Homo sapiens: one gene and its partners. The protein of the gene in region 2 interacts with the protein of the main gene of each other region in a biochemical or structural test. Each region holds a gene or a part of one and is shown on either strand. Other genes may lie near its edges. The genes, in order: PRKN, USP26, CDKN2A and BAG3.

The links.
Region 1: the proteins of USP26 (region 2) and PRKN form a complex in vitro, tested with the Homo sapiens proteins (one study listed by BioGRID).
Region 3: the proteins of USP26 (region 2) and CDKN2A form a complex in vitro, tested with the Homo sapiens proteins (one study listed by BioGRID).
Region 4: the proteins of USP26 (region 2) and BAG3 form a complex in vitro, tested with the Homo sapiens proteins (one study listed by BioGRID).

What each region holds. Positions count from the first base shown.
Region 1 is NC_000006.12:162,718,887-162,727,146, forward strand, and holds part of PRKN (E3 ubiquitin-protein ligase parkin), read right to left. Parts: exon of another isoform or gene 8,246-8,260; intron 1-8,245. UniProt on the Homo sapiens protein: Functions within a multiprotein E3 ubiquitin ligase complex, catalyzing the covalent attachment of ubiquitin moieties onto substrate proteins. Substrates include SYT11 and VDAC1.
Region 2 is NC_000023.11:133,094,310-133,098,315, forward strand, and holds the start of USP26 (ubiquitin carboxyl-terminal hydrolase 26), read right to left. Parts: upstream 2,801-4,006; 5' UTR 2,721-2,800; intron 1-2,720. UniProt on the Homo sapiens protein: Deubiquitinase regulating several biological processes through the deubiquitination of components of these processes.
Region 3 is NC_000009.12:21,969,074-21,973,046, reverse strand, and holds part of CDKN2A (cyclin-dependent kinase inhibitor 2A), read left to right. Parts: intron 1-1,382; exon of another isoform or gene 1,383-1,718; intron 1,719-1,838; coding exon 1,839-2,145; intron 2,146-2,543; coding exon of another isoform or gene 2,544-2,641; exon of another isoform or gene 2,642-3,242; intron 3,243-3,253; coding exon of another isoform or gene 3,254-3,315; exon of another isoform or gene 3,316-3,466; intron 3,467-3,973. UniProt on the Homo sapiens protein: Acts as a negative regulator of the proliferation of normal cells by interacting strongly with CDK4 and CDK6. This inhibits their ability to interact with cyclins D and to phosphorylate the retinoblastoma protein.
Region 4 is NC_000010.11:119,670,413-119,676,262, forward strand, and holds part of BAG3 (BAG family molecular chaperone regulator 3), read left to right. Parts: intron 1-1,842; coding exon 1,843-2,244; intron 2,245-5,850. UniProt on the Homo sapiens protein: Co-chaperone and adapter protein that connects different classes of molecular chaperones including heat shock proteins 70 (HSP70s), e.g. HSPA1A/HSP70 or HSPA8/HSC70, and small heat shock proteins (sHSPs), e.g. HSPB8.

The DNA of each region.
Region 1 (8,260 bases), on a different chromosome or scaffold from region 2:
TAAAAGTCAATACCTATGTCAGAAGCTCTGCATGTAGTGAGACACGGCAGATGCCACACACACATACACACACACACACACGAGAAAGGGACAATGAATAATGGAGAAAACTCTAGAGAGGGACAAAAGGAAGAAATTCCAATTCCAATCATAGGTTGAGCATCTCACAGATTCCTAAATGAACAAGAGTGGAAAGCCCACAACAGATCTCTACGAAATATCACTCTCTGTATCATATGATTATGTCTAAATTGACTGCCCAATAAAACACATATACTTCCCATCTGATCCTATGAATTCAGACATATTCATGTAAAAACGTCTTTATATATTGTCACATGTAATTATACAAATTTGGTGAATATCAACTGGATCATGCAGTCTACATTTGTCTGTGGTCAGGAGCCCAGAGAAGCAGCACCTCAGAGAACATGACCTCACTTGTGCTTAAATCTGTACCTCTCACACTCTGGGAACTCACCAGAGAGCTATAAAGGACTTTCAGGAGAAAGGAGGTCGAATTTCAAGGGTGGAGAGAAGACCCAGGGCACAGGGAATATTATTCTTAAATCTGTCTAATTCTCCAAGGAGCAAACCTAACTTGCCCCCATCCTCTAGCTGCCCAGAGTTCATCATTCCTCAATTTTGTTTCAATGGAAAAAAAAAATTGTAATCAGGACTGGATTTGCCTGGAAGGAAAATGCAGAGCCAGAGACTACAAAGATTTCCATTGCAGACAATTCCCAATCTAGGGAATGTCTCCAGTAGGAGCTGTGGTGAAGCCTGGTCTGTTCCGGTCAGGCCACTCCTGTGATAACCCTCAGAAACATTACAACCCACAGTCAAGCCCTGTGGCAACAAGTAAGGAAGAAATTCACCTGTTGTTCAGACAACAGCTGCTCCTTTGAGCTGAAGAATGAAATATTAAATTCCAGCTTCTGAGAAAATCAAGGAATGTGGGTAAGAAAAAAATGAGGGGACAGAAAAGAGGGAGTGCAGGTAGATGTCAAAAAAAAAAAAAAAAAAAAAAAAACTAAAGGTTGACCTCAGAAACACAGATATTACAAATGTTCCTTCCTATTTCTCCATTTTATTAATACGAGCAAGTTTCAGGTGTCTACTTCCTATCATTTCATGATCTGGAAAATGGATCTACTCTGCGGGTACAATAAGCTTTAAAAATGACTACGCAGTTACAGAGGGCTTCATCACAAGATCTTATTTATGCACTGAAACTCCAAAAATATCTCACAATAGGAGTAACTGGCGTATTCAACAATTATGTAAATAAATAATAAAAAGTCTCAATCAGGACACCAATATTAACTCCCTAATCACCAATTTTCCCCCTCATTTGATGAGGGTAGGAGTAGAGATGTGCAAAATGGGTGAGGCTGCTAACTATTGAACATTCTCTCCTCCAAAGTTAAGGGCTCTCATGTGAAACTTTATGGGGGCCTCTGTTCAGGTCTTACAGTAAAAGTAAATTGGAGAGAATCATCAAGAAGCCATCAATACTCTTAAAAATACACACATCTGTCCATAGATGGTCTTTTTTTTTTTTTTTTTTTTTTTGAGACGGAGTCTCGCTCTGTCGCCCAGGCCGGACTGCGGACTGCAGTGGCGCAATCTCGGCTCACTGCAAGCTCCGCTTCCCGGGTTCACGCCATTCTCCTGCCTCAGCCTCCCGAGTAGCTGGGACTACAGGCGCCCGCCACCGCGCCCGGCTAATTTTTTGTATTTTTAGTAGAGACGGGGTTTCACCTTGTTAGCCAGGATGGTCTCGATCTCCTGACCTCATGATCCACCCGCCTCGGCCTCCCAAGGTGCTGGGATTACAGGCGTGAGCCACCGCGCCCGGCCCATAGATGGTCTTAATATGTGCCTAGGTATATGAGTCATGCAGATATCTAAGAGGAAGAAACTATTCTGCACTATTCTGGGTGACACGATATCCACAGCTCTGATGACATTGTTCTCTCCACACAGAGAAGAAACTATAAATAGAACCCTAAGCATCATGTTCCACATATCAAAGAAGGAGATACAAACTATTTTTGGAATACAAATAAAGCTTTAGTAACATGAAATAAAACACCTGTCAATAAGAGACATTAATCTATTCTACAAAAATAAGAACTTTTTAAAAAGAAATATGGCCTTTAATCAGAGATGATGTAATGACATATCAAATCAATGTCAACACCCTGAGAAAAGCCATCTCCTACTGCACAATTACCCTGCCATTCTCAGTCGAAGACTGTCCTCTATTAAACATTATCTGGACTTCTTTCCTTTGTTTTATGGAGTGAGTTTATAAACGCTTGTTCTCCGTAACTAGTGATTTCAAGTATTCTGTTTTATCTAAGAAGTACAATGAAGGTCATGAGAAGTCCTCTATTAACACTTTATCTGGACTTGCTGGCACTAGTGTAACTATTTTCTACAACGTTCTATTTCATAACTTTCTAGTACTGCCACAGACATCTTTCTAAAATACAACCTGTTCATAATGCTCTTTTGTAGATAATGGTTCAGTGACTCCTCCCTATCGCCAACTTTAAACCTACCTCCTTGACAAAGCTTATCTGGTGTGCCTGCAGCCTCACCAGATACCTTTCATTCTATTCTCTTCTCTCCCCTCCATGCCTGTCTAGAAGGCCGCCTTCACCTAGTTAACTCCTACTTGTCCTGCAGGAAAACTGGAATGGCTCCACTGGGAAACAGCTGGATCTTCCAAGCTCTATAGGCTGAGTTTTCCAGTACTTCCTTGTATAAACCTATATTATGATACCCACCTTTCAGGTTTGTAAATCTTTACTTTTCTGTACCCCTTCTAGACTATGAACAAGGACCTGATGAAGGGTAGTTACTAAAATGTTGGCTGACTCTAAAGGAGGTGCTAATTGCCTCACACTAAAAAGAGGGTAAGAGGTGACATGGAAAATTTCACATAAAGTTGGTGCCATTGGAACTGGATCTTGAGTGATGAACAGTAGTTTTGAGATGTTCAACAGAAAGAAAGGGCATTCAGATCAACGAGAATCAAATGAACAAAAGAAACATGAAAAATCACGTGTTGCAGGCATGTATGTGTGTGCTGATATGTACATACATCTTTCTAATTACTCTTCTTCTGTGGTGGTGAAGGTGCAATCTATACCACCAATATAAGCCTAATCAGCCCAACTAGGCCACAAACTTATTGGGAAGAAATGGTCATTTCTATGTACCTTCCCCACAGGCAATATATAGACAAATACAACCTATGTGTACCCATCCCTACCCAGCACCATCTAATACATATGGTATAAAGAAATGACACTGAAATAATAATCATAAATACCTATTCATTCAAGGAAAAAAGGTTTCTATTTGGTGAAAAACAGACATTTGAGTTAATCTGTTAAGAGTCCTAGGTAATTAGGAAATTACTGGGGGAAAAGAATCCTATTACTGTAATTCCTTTTAACCAAGATTCTATGCTACAGGATGAAGTAAATAAGCCAGGGAGGTGAGCTGCAACATAAATCAGCCGACTGTCACATGAGTCTCTTTAATATTACAAAATTGAGGGAGAGAAACCATTCAGATTACTACGAAGAAACATTTAAAATGAGCTCATTAAATGCAAATTAAAACAGAAACATTGAATAAGCACTGGGCTACAATTAAAGGCTGCAGAAACAGCAGGTAAGAAACAATTTTCATTGATCAAAGAACTAATAGCTAACAGAATAAAGTATTTTGCATTAAAACTGCTTTCATGAATATGAAGCATTTCGAAGTAAGAACTCTTTTTTTTGCATTTTTCAAAGAAACTTTGGAGGTAGGAATGGATTTACATATCTTAATACAAAGTACTTTCATTGTATCATTTTCAGGCAATGAAACTATGAGGTTTCAAAAAATGCAGACTTCAAAAACATCCTCAGAAATAGGGCCAAAATTGTAAAGGGCAAAGGGTCATTTTAGAGCCTTTGGACCCAAGGAAGAACTATTATATAATTACATAAAATCTTCTATGCAAAACTTTAGTAGAGCCTATTTTTGACACAATTTTACCTCATTATAAACAGAAGCTTTGGGGTACTTAGGCATAGAGCTGGTTTTCATCAACTTATCAAAATGGCAGGGCAAAGAGCAGTACACAGTATATTCAACTAGAAATATAAATTGAGACTTTAAAATTCACTGCACACAAGCTTGAAAACAAATATGCAGATGTGTAGCCAAATGGTGAAGTCGGAATATACATTCCTGATGGCAAGGGACTTTTTCTGTTGTGTTCCCTCGTTTCCCTGGCACCTAGAGCAGTTAAGGGTACATAGCAGGTGCTGGAATCACTGGATCTGCTTTTGCAAAACTAACGCACTATAAGATGAGAATGAGAAGTTTTCTTCTAAATTAATTTGAAAAGTTAAAAGATACTGTTTTTCATCTGTCAAGACGGCAAAAATAAAAAATCTTCGATGGCACATGGGAGGAAATGGGCACTCTTATACACACTGAAAGGGAGGGCAGGGCCACCAAGGACAGTTGTGCAGCTTGTACACTGAAAGGCACTACCCCTAGGGTGAGAGAGAGGTGGGGGACCGGAGATCCAGGAGGCGTTCTGCTAGTGAAAGCTGAGTCAGTCTCAGGAAGGACGTCTTTTGGCAATTTTCAGCCCAGAGGGGCAGGGCAGCTCTTTACTACCATGTTGTATTAGTGGAGGCTTTAGATAGGCTTGTAAAATTGGGCAACTTATTTTGGAAAAATTTTGAAATACCTAGGAAAATGTAAAATCTACAAACTCTTTAACTCAAATTGTCATACGATTTTTATTTTACATCTATGCTTACATGTGCAAGTAAAAAGATATGGCCACAAACACTTCTGACAACAGTTGTCTGTAAACCTAATGAGTGCTTATTTATTGGTAAATATTTTCATAATTAGTGTATCCTATAAAAGACTAGGCAGGAATCGCTGTGGAGTGGATCTGGACATGCAGATATGTAAATTCTCAAAGAGATGCTAAGTGAAACAAGGTATAGAAGAGACTATGTTCCAATGAATGGTTTTTGTCAATCAAAAATCTTCTTAAAAGTCTAAGACACTGAATGTGTATTTCAATACTGACAACATTGTTGTATATATAACCATGCACTCTAATATCTGCTGTTACTCAAATACCTAAATCCAGTTCTACAGAACATTTAGAACATACCACAAATATCCCCACTAACATTCCATTTTAAACACAAAGAATTGCTCATTTTTAAAAAAGTCAAAATATATTTTTAATAGAGGTACCAAAAATTACATTTTTCTAAATTGAATTCTTTTAAGCTTTTCTATTCTGCTTTATATCATCTTGAAGTCCTTCTCCACACTTTCCACAAAGGCACAATTTTTAACCGACTTCAATTAAATTATGTTTCTGTAGCTGCCTGGGTCAGGGCATTCAACACATCAATCACAATGCAGGTGGGAAATGTAAGTACTTTTGAAACAGTCCTCATGCCAATAAGGGAATCTTCGGTTTTGAGAAAGTAAAAGGAAGGTACATGTCATTAGCAGTGAGGTCACAGTCAGTCCTGTTTACTCCTATTCTACCAGGAAACCCATCTTTACGTTTCTCCTTAAACTAAGCCAGGATTTAAATAAAGTGGCAGAATATTATTCGCAGTAAGGTTGAGGCGGGAAATTAAAGAACAATAAAATTAAAAAGAAAGAGAAATAAGTTTTCCTGTTTTAGGCTAACTTGTTCCAGAAGCAGCAACAGGCACAGCCTAGACCCAGGAAAAGTCTTGATAATATTATCTAATATGCTCTGGAGACTCTCTCAGCACTCCCTCAACACAGGGAGAAGAAAAACAAATTTTCCTTTGTTTTACAGAATGAGTTTATAGACTCTTGTTCTCTGTAACTAGTGATTTCAAGTATTCTGTTTTATCTAAGTAGTACAACGAAGGTCATAAAAAGCCTGAGTAGGCCTGAACTACAGCTGCCTGGGCACCACAGAGAAGGTTATAGGATAAGCCTGTGCCCAGGCAAACCTAGAAAACGAACATCTGGGTTGCTTGGCAATGGTCATCTGCAATCCTGTCTTTGTCCTGCCTCTGTATCCCTGCTTTCACGCCACTGTAAGCTTGCTTCAAGCTAGCCCACCTCCGTTTGTGAAGTGTGTATAAAAGTCAAGTACTGTCTTTATTCTGGGCCCAGTCTTTTGGATGTGAGTCAGCTGGGCCTGAGTACACTCAATAAAGATTCTCCTGCTTCAACCTGAGGTCTCCCTCATACTCCCGAATCCCGCAACAAGGTGAGTGTAATAGTTAGAGAAAGCATAGGCCTGAAAGGAGCAAGCTTTGAGAAGCACTCTTACCTTTAACAGAAAATCCCAGATACATACTATTTACATTTTAGTGATCACTGGATAAAGTCTATAATGTCTTTCCTGGCTCTGAATTTTTGTCACAAAAACACAAAACCCATCACTCCAAGGCTTCCTTTTAATGGTTTTCACTTTCACCTACCTTTAGCACTGTTCACGACACCCAAATCCCAAACTGACCATTCAGATGTTTACTGAAATGTGGCTAATGAGGCTGGGCGTGGTGGTTCATGCCTGTAATCCCAGCACTTTCAGAGGCGAATGCGGGAGGATTGCTTGAGCCCAGGAGTTTGAGACCAGCCTGGGCAACATTATGAAACTCCATCTCTACAAAAACTATAACAAAAAATTGGCAGGCATGGTGGCACACACCTGTAGTCACAGCTACTCAGGAGGCTGAGATGGGAGGATCACTTGAGCCCAGGAGTTGGAGGCTGCAGTGAGCTGTGATGGTGCCACTGCACTCCGGCCTGGGTGACAGAGACAGAACCTGTCTCAAAAAGAGGAAAAAAAAAAAAAAAAGACGTGTGTCTAATTTCAGAATTAGGCAATGCAACTAGTTGAATATTTTATTGCACATTGTCCATGATCTTATATGTAAGGCACATTTCCTAGGGAAAGCAGGCATGGATTTAATCATTTATGTTGTACTGCACACTTATTTGCACTATGTAAAACCATGGCTGGAGTGAGAGAAATAACACTTTTAAAAACCAACCTTATATTCTCCATGTCATTACCAGTAATTGATAACTGTTTAATCATCAACTCCAAAGATATTTCTTCCTTATTGGAAGAATTCCAGATAAAACTAAACAGAACTGTCCAAACACATTTCATCCTAATAAAGTTATTTATATAATCACTTATTAGGTCATAACTTATAACTGAGTAATGTTCTTTAGATCTTAAGTGCTTGTCTTTATATAGCTTTACAATAAATTTGTTTCTCTTAAAATTATCTGTGCACTAGATTAAGTTAAATTAAAATAAAATGTATTTAACTGTCTTCAAAATAAGGTATAGGCTATTTTCTTCCTGTAGACTGACAGCACAGATATTGGAAAATCTCTTCTACTTGGTTTTCTGATTCAGTTCAAACTTGTGCTTGCAAGTGAATCTTACGTAAATGTCACCTAAAAAGAGCTCAAGAAGACTCATAAAAAATATTTTTTTCGTAATTTGATTAACTTTCAAGTCATTCACCAAAAGTCAGACCATGCTAGAAAGGGAAGAAAAGTTGGACAACATTCTTGTTTTACCACAAAGACCATGCCAGTTAGCTGGCTTGATTCTCCCACTGATGGGGAGAATGTTTACATTTTAACAATAACTTCACAAATAAACAGATGTAAGAAGTGTTTTCAGTGCATAAAGATCATATACTTTATAAATCCACCTCTCATCTTTCTTCTGGACAGACCACATCTGACTTCGAACGTACTTACTGCAATCAAAAGTGTTTTGTAAAGGACCCTCCTCAGGAATAAACAAGCTCACTAAACCCTCCATACATAACCTGGAGAAACCTCCACAATAATGAAACCCCATCTAGCACTGTTTTTCAAACATATGGTGCATTTCCATTAATTTTCAGGGATAGCCCCTAAAGTAACTTTTGGCTCAACAACCCTGGAAGAGAGGACCTTTGCTCATCTTACACATCAAGTGTTCATGAACAACTCTGATGCCACTAAGTTTCGTTCACAAACTTGCACCTCGGTCGTTCTTTTACAAAAAAAAAAAAGAAAGGTTATTTTGCAAAAGGCAATAGATTTAATCTTGGCTACTATTTACTCTTAATGTTTCTTTCATCTCAGCCCTCCAATGAGAAGTTTAAAAGGAAACATCCGAGGGAGCAAGTTTAGATCTATCTGGAGG
Region 2 (4,006 bases):
GCGAGCAGAAGATCCAGAAGGATCTAGAAGGATCTACTTCCATTTTCTCTCCTAACCTGGCCCTAGACAACTTCTGTCCTCCTTATTCTTAAATAGAAACCTTTTTTTTTTTTTTCTGGGAAGGAACACCTTGGAAAGAGGACCTATGCCAAAATGTATAAATACCATTATATTAAACACACAACTATACTGTACAATAAAATTCAGATGAGGCAACATGACTTCCAACGGCTGTTCACTGCCAGAAAGTAAACATTTGACGTTACAGTTAATTTCCTCATTTACACACTGAAATACCTCCGTCTTTTAAAGGAAACGTATGCAAAAAACTCGAGCAGAATTGAATACATTGAACCTCAACACACAATTGTTTCAGGATATGATATCCCAAAAAACTTTCTGCAGTGGCTGGTGATTGGCACTTGTGACAATTTAGTGTCCTAAAACAAGCTCTCAGGCAAATTAGCAATGTGTGCATTTTTACATTAAAAATACCACAAACGGGCTGGGCACAGTGGCTCACGCCTGTAATCCCAGCACTTTGGAAAGCCGAGGAGGGTGGATCACCTGAGGTAAGGAGTTCAAGACCAGTCTGGCCAACTTGGTGAAACCCCGTCTCTACTAAAAATAGAAAAATTAGCTGGGCATAGGGGCGGGCACCTGTAATCCCAGCTACTTGGGAGGCTGAGGCAACAGAATCACTTGAACCTGGGAGGCAGACGTTGCAGTGAGCTGGGATCGTGCCACTGCGCTCCAGCCTGGGCGACAGAACAAGACTCTTGTCAAAAAAAAAAAAAAAAAAGAAAGAAAGAAAGAAAAGAAAAGAAAAGAAAGAAAATGCCACAAAACATTCTTTCAATTAGAAAATTCTTTTCGTTATTTGTAAATTGAAGATAATACAAAACTTTCTTCACACAAAATTTATGAAAAGGACTAGGACCCACATTTAATGGAATAAAATGCTACCTAACACAGAATTCCTCTGTAAAATAAAATTCCAAATTCCATTAAATGGCAGCCGATGATAAGACACTTAAGTGCAGTCACTGGTGCAAAACATTAAGGACACAGCCAGATGATTAAATTGTGCATTTGTAAATCAAGATTACTCCAAAACTTTTATTTTATAAGGAAATTAATGAAGAGGAAACAAGACCAGAATTTGGACAAATAAAATTATACCAAATAGGCTGTTCTGTTATAAAATGCACTCAATCGACAGTTAATTTCCTCTACTGCAAACTGAAACTTGTACAAAACCTTTCATAAGAAACCTATGAAGTTTCCAATGCCAACAATATTTTTTTAAGAGACAGGGTCTCGCTCTGTCGCCTAGGCTGCAGTACAGTGGCACAGACGCAGCTCACTTCAGCCTCGTCCTCCTGGGCTAAAGAGGTCCTCATACGTGGCCAAGACTACTCGGGGAGACTACATCTGGCTATTTATTTATTTTGAGATGTAGTCTCACTGTGTCGCCCAGGCTAGAGTGCAGTGGCACAATTTCGGCTCACTGCAACCTTCGCCTCCTGGTTTCAAGTGATTCTCTTGCCTCAGCCTCCCCAGTAGATGGGATTACAGGCACATATCACCACGCCTGGCTGATTTTCATATTTTTAGTAGAGACGGGGTTTCACCGTGTTGACCAGGCTAGTCTCGAACTCCTGACCTCAGGAGATCCACTCACTTCAGCCTCCCAAAGTGCTGGGATTACAGGCATGAGCCACGGCGCCCGGCCTAATTTTTTTTTTTTTTTTTTTTTTTTTTTTTTTGTAGAAATGAGGTCTCCCTCTGCTGTTCAGGCTGGTCTCTAACTCCTGGACTCAAGCCTCCTTCCCACCTCCCAAAGCACTGGGATTACAAACACTAGCCACCACAGCTAGAGAGGCAGAGCATCCATATTGTTTGTAAAACATCAACTGCAATTAAGACCAAACTTTTAAAGGCAAATGAATGAAAAATATGAGAAGCACTCTTCGTGGAATACAATTAAATTCACAACTATACTGTATAAAAATGCAAAATAGCGAATGACCAACAGGAGGCTATCTGAAGTTGTCAATGAACAATTCCTGCACTGACCAGACAACATTTTCAAGTTTTAAACACCAGAAAACTTTTCTTTTATTTGAAAGTGAGTGGATGAAAGAACCGACTCCAAAAGATAACCACAAATATTACATTTTTAAAAGAAAGAAATACAAACAACATCGCAGCAGCTAATGGCCATTAACTGTCCTAATACCGTGCACAATCCCTCCCAATGGGAAGCTGATTCTTTCCAGGTCCAAAGTAACAGAAAGAGAGGCCAGGCGTGGTGACTCACGCCTGTAATCCCAGCAGTGTGGGACACTGAGGCGGGTGGACCACCTGAGGTCAGGTGTTGGAGCTCAGCCTGAGAAATATGGTGAATCTCTGTCTCTACTAAAAATACAAAAACTAGCCAGGCGTCGTGGCAGGCGCCTGTAATCCCAGTTACTCAGGAGGATGAGGCAGGAGAATCGCTTAAACCCAGGAGGCGGAGGTTGCAATGGGCCGAGATCATGCCACTGCACTACAGCCTGGATGACAGAATGAGACTCCGTCTCAAAAAAAACAAAAACAGAAAAACGAAAAGAAAAGAAAAAGTATACTACTACATTTCATATAGCCACATATAGAAAGCACACTACAAATATCTAACTCTCAATAACTATTACAAATGAAAAGCAAATTGATCTTACAATAGTTTGTGGAAGAAGTCGACACCCCTGACACACCAACGCTCCACCACGTGCCCACTTAACGATCGAAAACAAAATGGGCCCCGCCACAGGGGCAGGCTTCTTTTATTGCCAGTGTATGGCTCCACCCTCAAAGATCCTGATTGGTTGTGACTGAAACAATTGACCAGGATACTGTCTACTCCCACCTTCTCTATAACAGGAAAGTCCGTCCACACCCCGGGCCTTTGCTCCTTATTGGTGGGAAGGATTATTGCTTGGAGGTGTTGCGCGTGCAGTGGCAGGAACTGTGGGGAATGGAAGGAAAAAACTATCACAAAGTAACTCCCACGAGACTTTCTGCGTGGTTCCCGCAATGAATTCAAATAACGCGCCAACCGCTTTTACATTTTTTGCATATTATTGCCTTGTACGGGAAAGATCTTCCCAGCCATTTCTACCATTGGGATGAGACTCAATTCGTAGCAGGGAATTGAAACCCACCCCTCAGCATTTACGTTTGGGAAAAAGGAACGGGCGTGATGCCAGGACGGGGATCTACAGTGAAAAATGAGCCTAAATAGCTGTACACCTAACAATTGTGCATAGGAAGTAAGGGCATTAAATTGGGGATGGTGCCGCCATTGCAGGTGAGTTAAACAGAATGGGCATTAAACTAAGTGAGCATAAGCAGTTAGGAGAGAGTTTATACGACTGGGAGAATGGATGTGGGGTGATAAGAGGACTGAGGAAGGGGATCACGAGTAGAACTAGGAAATGGCCATACTAGCGTTTGAATCCATGACCCTCTAGCACCAATGTCTGTGTCGTAGACCACTATTTAAGAGTAATCAGCCTCCTACTAGAATTTCCTTTCCCCCCATCTCTGTCCACCAATTAGGTCCCAGCTCAAACACAGCCGCCTCCATGATGCATTCACTGATCCTTTCCCTCTCTTACCAGGCCCTCTCTTGCTGCTATCAGGTGGGGAATATGGGAAAACATTAGAATTGGGGTGCAAGGGAGTGCTGTCAGCACTGGCATCAGTTAGCACCGGGCTGGATGTGGCGAGAAGGACCCAGATTTGTACTGGGATGTTTGCATTTGTTAGGTTGCAGAAATTCTGCAAAATCCAGTGCAAAAAAATAACCTAGCCCATACCTGTCTCCTGACTGGTCAGAGAATTATAAATTTAGACTACAGTTGAAAGTAAACTTGGTAGGGCTGGGCGTGGTGACTCACGCCTGTAATCCCAGCACCTTGGTAGGCCGAGCAGGTGGATCACCTGAGGCCAGGAGTCTGAGGCC
Region 3 (3,973 bases), on a different chromosome or scaffold from region 2:
GTTTGCTTATACTTTCTCTTTGTCTCTTTGAAAACTGAGTCAGTTTCACTTTCTCAGGACAGGATTTAATAACCATAATATAATTTAGTATAATTCCTTGATTTAGGCAAATTATGCAATTTGTGTTTAGTATGAAATGTACCTAAAAATAAGTAACTCCTCTTTAACACCACCATCCTCAAACTAATATAACAAATAACAGTTATCCTAAAATAAATTGTCTACTTCCACCATGCAGCACTCAAATTTTAAGGTTGCTATGACTGCAGACAGTATTTTAAAATTCCTCTCTGGAAATGGCTTTGTTTCCAAGATGATTTAGGAACCAAAGAGGTGACCATCTCTTGTTTAATGAACTCTCAAATCATAAACCTGGGAAGTGTTTTAGTTTCCTACTGCTGCTGTTACAAATTATCACAAATGTGTTAGCTAAAACAAACACAAAATTATTATTTTACAGTTCTAGAGATCAGAAGTCAAAAATGGGTCCACAAGGTTTCATTCCTTTTGGAAACTCTAAGGGGCAATCTGTTTCCTTGTCTTTTCCAGCTTCTAGTGACCATCAAATTCCTTGGCTCATGGTCTCTGTATTTTCTCTGTGGCCTGTGCTTCCATTCTTGTATCTTCTCTCTGACTGTGACCCTCTAATAAAAACACTTGGGGTTATGTTGGGCCCACCCTGAAAATTCTGGATAATCTCCCTCAAGACCATTAATTAAATCACATCTGCAAAGCCTCTTTTGCCACATAAGTTAATGTATTAAAAGTTTTTGAGGATTAGGACATAGACATTGGGGGTGGGGGGGCATTATTCAGCCTACCACAGGAAGGAATTTTAGGGTTAATTAAACTAGCCTTCTTATTTTATACTTGAAGAAATTGAAGTTTTGGAATTGGAGAGCATTATGCTAAATGAAATAAGCCAAACACAGAAAGACAAATATCACATGTTCTCACTTATCTGTGAAATATAAAACAATTACATTCTTAGCAGTAAAGAGTAGAATGGTGGTTACTAGAGCTGGGGGGTGGGAGGAATGGGGAGATGGTAATCAAGATATAAAGCCTCAGTTAAGATGGGAGGAATAAGTTTGATTGTTTTTTTTGAGATGTGTTTCATAGCATGATGAATATAGCTAAATAGTAAATCCCAAATGCTCTCATTTGACAAAAATGTCAAATATTTGAGATGATGGATAGGTTACTTAGCTTGACTTAATAATTCCCCATTGTGTTCAAAGATCATAACTTCATATTGTACCACATAAATATATACAACTGTACTATCCCAATATATAATTTTAAAACTAATATAATGAAAAAGAAATTGAAGTTCAACATTCCCAGAAGCTAAGTGTAACTTAAAAGTTTTGTGAGAATTTGTTTTAACAAACAAACAAGTTTTCTCTTTTTAACAATTACCACATTCTGCGCTTGGATATACAGCAGTGAACAAAAAAAAAAAAAAAAATCTCCAGGCCTAACATAATTTCAGGAAGAAATTTCAGTAGTTGTATCTCAGGGGAAATACAGGAAGTTAGCCTGGAGTAAAAGTCAGTCTGTCCCTGCCCCTTTGCTATTTTGCCCGTGCCTCACAGTGCTCTCTGCCTGTGACGACAGCTCCGCAGAAGTTCGGAGGATATAATGGAATTCATTGTGTACTGAAGAATGGATAGAGAACTCAAGAAGGAAATTGGAAACTGGAAGCAAATGTAGGGGTAATTAGACACCTGGGGCTTGTGTGGGGGTCTGCTTGGCGGTGAGGGGGCTCTACACAAGCTTCCTTTCCGTCATGCCGGCCCCCACCCTGGCTCTGACCATTCTGTTCTCTCTGGCAGGTCATGATGATGGGCAGCGCCCGAGTGGCGGAGCTGCTGCTGCTCCACGGCGCGGAGCCCAACTGCGCCGACCCCGCCACTCTCACCCGACCCGTGCACGACGCTGCCCGGGAGGGCTTCCTGGACACGCTGGTGGTGCTGCACCGGGCCGGGGCGCGGCTGGACGTGCGCGATGCCTGGGGCCGTCTGCCCGTGGACCTGGCTGAGGAGCTGGGCCATCGCGATGTCGCACGGTACCTGCGCGCGGCTGCGGGGGGCACCAGAGGCAGTAACCATGCCCGCATAGATGCCGCGGAAGGTCCCTCAGGTGAGGACTGATGATCTGAGAATTTGTACCCTGAGAGCTTCCAAAGCTCAGAGCATTCATTTTCCAGCACAGAAAGTTCAGCCCGGGAGACCAGTCTCCGGTCTTGCCTCAGCTCACGCGCCAATCGGTGGGACGGCCTGAGTCTCCCTATCGCCCTGCCCCGCCAGGGCGGCAAATGGGAAATAATCCCGAAATGGACTTGCGCACGTGAAAGCCCATTTTGTACATTATACTTCCCAAAGCATACCACCACCCAAACACCTACCCTCTGCTAGTTCAAGGCCTAGACTGCGGAGCAATGAAGACTCAAGAGGCTAGAGGTCTAGTGCCCCCTCTTCCTCCAAACTAGGGCCAGTTGCATCCACTTACCAGGTCTGTTTCCTCATTTGCATACCAAGCTGGCTGGACCAACCTCAGGATTTCCAAACCCAATTGTGCGTGGCATCATCTGGAGATCTCTCGATCTCGGCTCTTCTGCACAACTCAACTAATCTGACCCTCCTCAGCTAATCTGACCCTCCGCTTTATGCGGTAGAGTTTTCCAGAGCTGCCCCAGGGGGTTCTGGGGACATCAGGACCAAGACTTCGCTGACCCTGGCAGTCTGTGCACCGGAGTTGGCTCCTTTCCCTCTTAAACTTGTGCAAGAGATCGCTGAGCGATGAAGGTAGAATTATGGTCCTCCTTGCCCTTGCCTTTCCTTTTTGTGATCTCAAAGCATCCTCCCTCCGCCCCCATTCCATGGCCCCAGTTCCCTACTCCCACAGCTGTCTGCTGAAACTGCCAACATTACTCAATTGTTTCTGGGGGGAGGAACATTTTTTTTTGAAACAAAATAGATATATGAAACAGTACACGGGAATTAACACGAATATTTAAGGTAAAACATGACCTTGAAGATTATGAAATCCATCTTATTTTGGCCCAGAACGGGGGCATTGGGCTCCTTGGGCCATAGGGGAGCTGGGGAGGACAGGGTGAAGAGTTAGCTCTAAGCCCTCTGCTTGGAGATGCTGTAAATACAGAACGCAAAATCACCTTCGAAGTTAAAGACGCGAAGTTCTTCTTTACTCGGCCCCTCCTCCCCTCCCCCCCGCCAATTCCCTCCAGTTACAGCTAGCATCCAGGTCCCGGGAGGTGAAGAAGGAGACTTCGGCTCCAGTTACAGCTAGCATCCGGGTCCCGATTTAGAAGGAGCTGCCAATTACAGCGCGGTTCCAGGGCTGAGCAAAAAGCCTGAGGAGCCAAGTGGGAGAGGGAGTAAAACTACTGAATTGGGCCACAAGCAAATGAATAAACTGAACGACTCTTAACCAAACCTAATATATTTAATCCAAACACACAAGTCTTTCATTTCTTCCCTCCTCCCTTCCTTCTCTTACTCCCCAACACCCCCTCTTCAAGCACAATTAATTATATGGTTAGATTCTACTGCGTGATCAGCCCTGTTCTAGGTGGTGGGCACGCCAAGGTGAATGAGACCAAACAAGAGTCTTGCCCTCATGGGGTTTACATTTGGAGACAGAGTCGATCTGTTGCCCAACCTGGAGTGCAGTGGCGCGATCACAGCTCACTGCAGCCTCAAACTCCCTGGCTCAAGGGGTTCTCCCACCTGAGCCTCCCGACTAGCTGGGACCACAGGTGCACGCCACGACGCCTGGGTTTGTTTGTTTGTTTAATAGAGACGAAGGTCTCACCATGTTATCTGGGCTCAAGCGATCATCCCCCCTCCTCCTCCTAAAGTACTGGGATTACAGTCCCAAGCTATCTTGCCCGACCTGGGAAACAGACGTTAAGGAAGATAACAATCTATTTTCAGAGAGCGAGTTT
Region 4 (5,850 bases), on a different chromosome or scaffold from region 2:
CTTTTTGTAGCTAAGGAACGGCTCGGAAGGGCACACTGCAGCCTGCCTGCTCCAGATGCACACAGGTGGAGGGAGCAGAGCTGGGACCGGAAGCCTGGCCTGCCTTCTGGCGCCTAATTTCCATGCTCCTTATTCACACTGGGCTTTCTATTCAGAAGCACAGAGATAGCTGTGCATTATTTTGTTCAGTTCAATGCTTATGGATAAATCTTAACCGCTTGTGGAGCTATGTTGACAGGAAAATGAGACCCCATGCCTGCCCTCACCGTGCACCACAGTTTCAAAAGAAATAAGGAGTCAGGAAGGCAGCTGCTTTAAGACAGCATTTTAATCCTGAAGCCAAACATCTCAGGGATATGTCAATGGATTCTGTGCATTAATAGCTAAAAAATAGTTCTTAATCTGGTTCTTAGCTGAGATTTGAGGCATTCCTAGTAGGATTCCTAAGCAGTAAGTCCTCTCATTTTCCTGTCTGCACATCATCCTGTGGTGTGTGCCAGCGTTGTTCCTGGGCACAAACTCCCGTGTCCTATCTGCACCCTGAGTCATGCTTGCCTCTCAGCTCCGTCTGAATCTGTTCAGCTTCACACCTGCTTGAGAGTGAAAGTTACAGTTAATGTGGGATACCTTTTTTCTTTTCTTAGAGAGGTAGTACCTGGCTGAGGCAGGTGGATCACTTGAGGCCAGGAATTCAAGACCAGCCTGGCTAACACGGTGAAACCCCGTCTCTACAAAAAATACAAAAATTAGCCGGGCATGGTGGCACATTCCTGTAATCCCAGCTACTCAGGAGGCTGAGGCAGGAGAATTGCTTAAACCCAGGAGGCAGAGGTTGCAGTGAGCCGAGATCGCACCACTGCACTCCAGCCTAGGTGATAGAGCGAGACTGTCTCAAAAATAAAAAAATAAGTAATGCCTATATTTATAATGGTTTTGCTGCAAGAAATCAAAGTGACACATAAATGCGAGACATCTTCACAAATTTAGGCTAACAAAGCACTTAGAAGAGGAAATGCTCTCAATTTCGAGGTGAATAGAAGGTGGCCCAGCAGGGAAAGGTGCTTGACCTGCCTTGGGCCACACGGGATGCTGGCAGCTCCCAGTTGCTCAGCCGAGTTCTCTGTAGATTGGCAGAGAAAGGGTAGTGGGGACAACACATCCCTTGTATGAGCGCTTCCTGTGTGCTGGCCTGGGGCTGAGGCACATGCCCAGGTGACTGACCTCATCTTCAGAGCAGCCCAGTGAGGGAGGGGCACTCTTCCTATATTTCAAATGAAGCTTAGAAAATGATTGAATTACTAGGAATTTGAACATAGGCCCCTTGATTCCAAAGCCTTCAGTCTTTGTTGTGTGTGTGTGTGTTTTGTTTTGTTTTGTTTTGTTTTGCTTTGTTTGAGGTGGAGTCTCTCTCTGTTGCCCAGACTGGAGTGCAGTGGTGTGATCTCAAATCACTGCAACCTCTGCCTCCTAGGTTCAAGCAATTCCCCTGCCTCAGCCTCCTGAGTAGCTGGCACTACAGGCATGCGCCGCCACACCCAGCTAATTTTTGTATTTTTGGTAGAGATGGGGTTTCACCATGTTGGCCAGGCTGCTCTTGAACTCCTGACCTCAGGTGGTCCACTCACCTAGGCCTCCCAAAGTGCTGGGATTACAGGTGTGAGCCACCGCGCCCAGCCCCAGAGCTCTCAGTCTTAACCGCACATTTTGAAAATTGAAAATTACAGATAGGAGGTCTTACAATATGGATTGCCCTGAGGAGGTGCACAGCAGAAGGCGTGGTCAGGATGCCAAGCCAGGGGAGTCATTTGTGGGGTCATGCCCTCTACCCTGTGTCTCTTGCAGCGGTCCCAGTCTCCAGCTGCCTCTGACTGCTCATCCTCATCCTCCTCGGCCAGCCTGCCTTCCTCCGGCAGGAGCAGCCTGGGCAGTCACCAGCTCCCGCGGGGGTACATCTCCATTCCGGTGATACACGAGCAGAACGTTACCCGGCCAGCAGCCCAGCCCTCCTTCCACCAAGCCCAGAAGACGCACTACCCAGCGCAGCAGGGGGAGTACCAGACCCACCAGCCTGTGTACCACAAGATCCAGGGGGATGACTGGGAGCCCCGGCCCCTGCGGGCGGCATCCCCGTTCAGGTCATCTGTCCAGGGTGCATCGAGCCGGGAGGGCTCACCAGCCAGGAGCAGCACGCCACTCCACTCCCCCTCGCCCATCCGTGTGCACACCGTGGTCGACAGGCCTCAGGTACGGGAAGTTAGTCGTCAGCAGACTGGTTATGGTGGTATGTCTCCAGGGGTGCAGGAGCTCTGTGGGTGCCCTGGGTTCCCCCTTCATCCCTGCCTATTTAACATGCGTGTACCTACAGGCAAGTGAGATTCGAGAAATTGCTAGGTATTAACAGAAATGCAGGACAGTTGCTCAGGCTGTGAACCCTCCGCACTCTGCAGCTTTTGCTGGGCTGATCATTGTGCATTGCGGCTGACTTAGAGCAGACGAAACAGCTTGGCAGAACTTACATACCTGGGACCAGCTTCCTTAGTGTCCACCACACCCTTTCAGGGCTCTTCACACCCCCATCCACACCGCAGCCACAGCCTCACCTTGGGTGTAGGCAGTGTGTCACCTTCCACTCAGTTACCCACTCCACTCTGCAGGCCCATTCTGCTCATTCCCACCCCTGTGCCTTTGCCCATGCTGAACCCGCTCCCTGAAATGCCCGCACAGTATAGGTTCTCCCTGTCCTCTGAGGGACGAGCCAGTCTTGTCTCCTCCATGAAGCCTACTCATCCTTCTCATCTCATGATGCCTCATATGAGTCCCTTAATGAGAACTCCCAACTTGTATGAGTTCAACATGTCATTATTCGGGGCATTTCAGAAGTGTTCATTTTATCTCTTCAGCTTAGGGCTGAGCCTGACCACAGGGCCCATGTCTTAACCCCCCTCCTCCCTTTGTAATCAGGTACCATGTGGTCTGGCTGAGGCATCAGCCAGCTATGGCGGATTGGAAGCCGTGCTGGCCTGGGGAAGGTTGTAGGCAGGGGTCTGGTTATCTTCCAGTGGAGACACAAGGTGCAGGTTCCTGGAAGAGGATGTCATTTAGTTTAAGCAGCTCACAGCTTAGCAGCAGGACAGTCAGCAGCCCTGGGCCCCCTGTGGCTGCAACTTGAGCAGCTGAATGCTACAGTTTTTAAAAAGGAAAGCCCCCCGTGAACAAATGTGGGATATTCTTTCATTACAAATGGTCACACTGGCCAGGGCCCTGGAATAGAGCACCCTCATCTTAAAATGTTGTTTTATTTGGAAATAATTTCAATCTCATAGAAGAGTTGTGTGAATCATACAGAGCCCCACATATACTTCATCCAGTTCACTGTTTGTCAATATGTCTGCATTCGCCTTGTCATTTCTTCTCTCGTATATTATTGATGTGTTTTAACTGTTTGAAAATTAATTGCAGACATCATGTCCCTTTTCCCCTGAATAGCAAATATTTTCCTAAGAGGAAGACATTCTCGTTCATAACCATGGTAGACTTACCAGATTCAGGAAATTTCACATTCTTACAACATTATTATCCAGTACATTTTTGAATCTTTTTTATAGCAGTTTGCCCCCACTTCCAGGATGTCTTCCAGGACTGAAACAAGGATCATGAGCACCGCATTTAGATGCAACTTCTCTTCAGTCTTCCCTCAGCCTTTCTTTGCTTTCACGGCCTTGACGGTTTTGAAGAACACAGGCTGTGGAACACCCTCTCTAAAGTGTTTCTAAAGTCACTTCTTACACAGCCATTGCTGTTAGAACCTAGGAGGGGTGCGTGGTTGGGTTGTGAGTGGTAAGGGCCAAAGTTGCGAATGTCTGCATTGGCGAAAGAGATTTGATGGAAAAGGAGGTTGCTGGAGTGTAGACAGCTACATCGATCCATACTTGGGTTCAGCAATCCTAGGAGGGTCCCATTTGTAGAGAGAGGGATATTTTCTCCACATCATTCCCATGTGTTTCTCATCATCAGTGAAATGATATTTCATCCTGTTCTTACCATTAACCGTGTTTGTGGTGACCTCCCTTTTAGAGCTGATTCAAAGTTCCCTTTTGGGAGGCTTTCCAGGATTTCACCAAACTGAACGTTATAGTGGAATTGAGTGTTTTAAGCTGGGAATAGTTTAGAAATAATATAGTCCAGTTATTTCCCAGTTGATGAAATTAGGGTGAGATTTTAAAAGAAGTGTTAGATATTCACTTACATGAATAAGAGCCAAGATAAGGCCAAGCGCAGTGGCTCACGCCTGTAATCCTGTAATCCTAGCACTTTGGGAGGCCGAGGCGGGGGTATCACTTAAGGTCAGGAGTTCAAGACTAGCCTGGCCAACATGGTGAAACCCCATCTCTACTAAAAATACAAAAAAAAAAGTTAACCAGGCATGTTGGTGGGCGCCTGTAATCCCAGCTACTCGGGAGGCTGGGGTGGGAGGATTGCTTGAACTTGGGAGGCAGAGGTTGCAGTGAACTGAGATCACACCACTGCACACTCCAGCCTGGGTGACAGAGCGAGGCTCCGTCTCAAAAACAAAAACAAAAACAAAAAGCGTCAAGATATTTTTGCTTTGAGCATAGCTCATTAAAAAATATATGGCTTACTAGGCGTGGTGGCTCACACCTATAATCCTAGCACTTTGGGAGGCCGAGGTGGGCAGATTGCTTGAGCTTAGAAATTCAAGACCAGCCTGGGCAGCATGGTGAAACCCTGTCTCTACAAAAAAATAGAAAAATTAGCCAGGCATGATGGTATGTGCCTGTAGTTGCAACTAATCATGAAGCTAAGGTGAGAGGATCACTTGAGGCCAGAAGGTTGAGGCTGCATTGAGCTGTGATAGCCCCGCTGCACTCCAGCCTGGGCAACAGAGTGAGACCCTGTCCCCCACAAAAATCTATATATCTATATGGCTGTAGTTTATAGTCACAGGAAAACCTGTGCAGCCAGAGGTTAGCACAGAGGCGCTGTGTCATTGCTGAATGTTAGGCTACAGCACAGCTATCCTGAAGCAAAATTGTTCTGGAGTTAACCATTTAGAGCATCTTGGCTAATCCTAAAAAAATACATTGGTCTGGGCAGAAACTACTAGGCTGTCACGGTTTTAAAAAAAGAAGATCGTATCTTTTCTAAAACAGGAGACAAGAAGATCACACCGTGAGCAGACTGTCTGCACAGTGTAAGGAAGAAGGACCAGAGGCAGCGACTCCAAGGCTGCAACACCTGAGAGCTGGAGTCACTCAGGACTCTGCTCTGAGTCAGCCTAGTTCAGCAGTCAGCATGAGTTTTTGCTATTTTTTTCCTTCTTTCCTTCCTTCCTTCCCTCCTTCCCTCCCCCTCCCTTCCCCCCTTCCCCTTCCCCCCTTCCCTGCTTCCTTCCCCCTTCCCCCTTCCCTCCTTCCTTCCTGCCCCCTTCCCCCTTGCCCCCTTCTCCCCTTCCTTCCTTCCTTCCTTCCCCCCTTCCTTCCTTCCTTCCTCCCTCCCTCCCTTCCTTCTTTGAGACAGGATCTCGCTCTGTCACTCAGGCTGGAGTGCAATGACATAATCGTGGCTCACTACAGCCTTGAATTCCTGGGCTCAAGCGATTCTTCCGCCTCAGCCTTCTGAGTAGCTGGGACTACGAGTGCAAGCTCCCACACCTGGCTAATTTTTAAAGATTTTTTGTAGGGTTGGGGTCTTACTATATTGCCCAGGTTAGCTATTTTCATTTTTGAAAATTTTATTGGGTTTCTTTTCATTGCCATTAAGAATACCATCTACAGAGAAATTCAGTGAGAGGTAATAGACAAATAGCCTGGGGTGATCAATGGAAGCCTG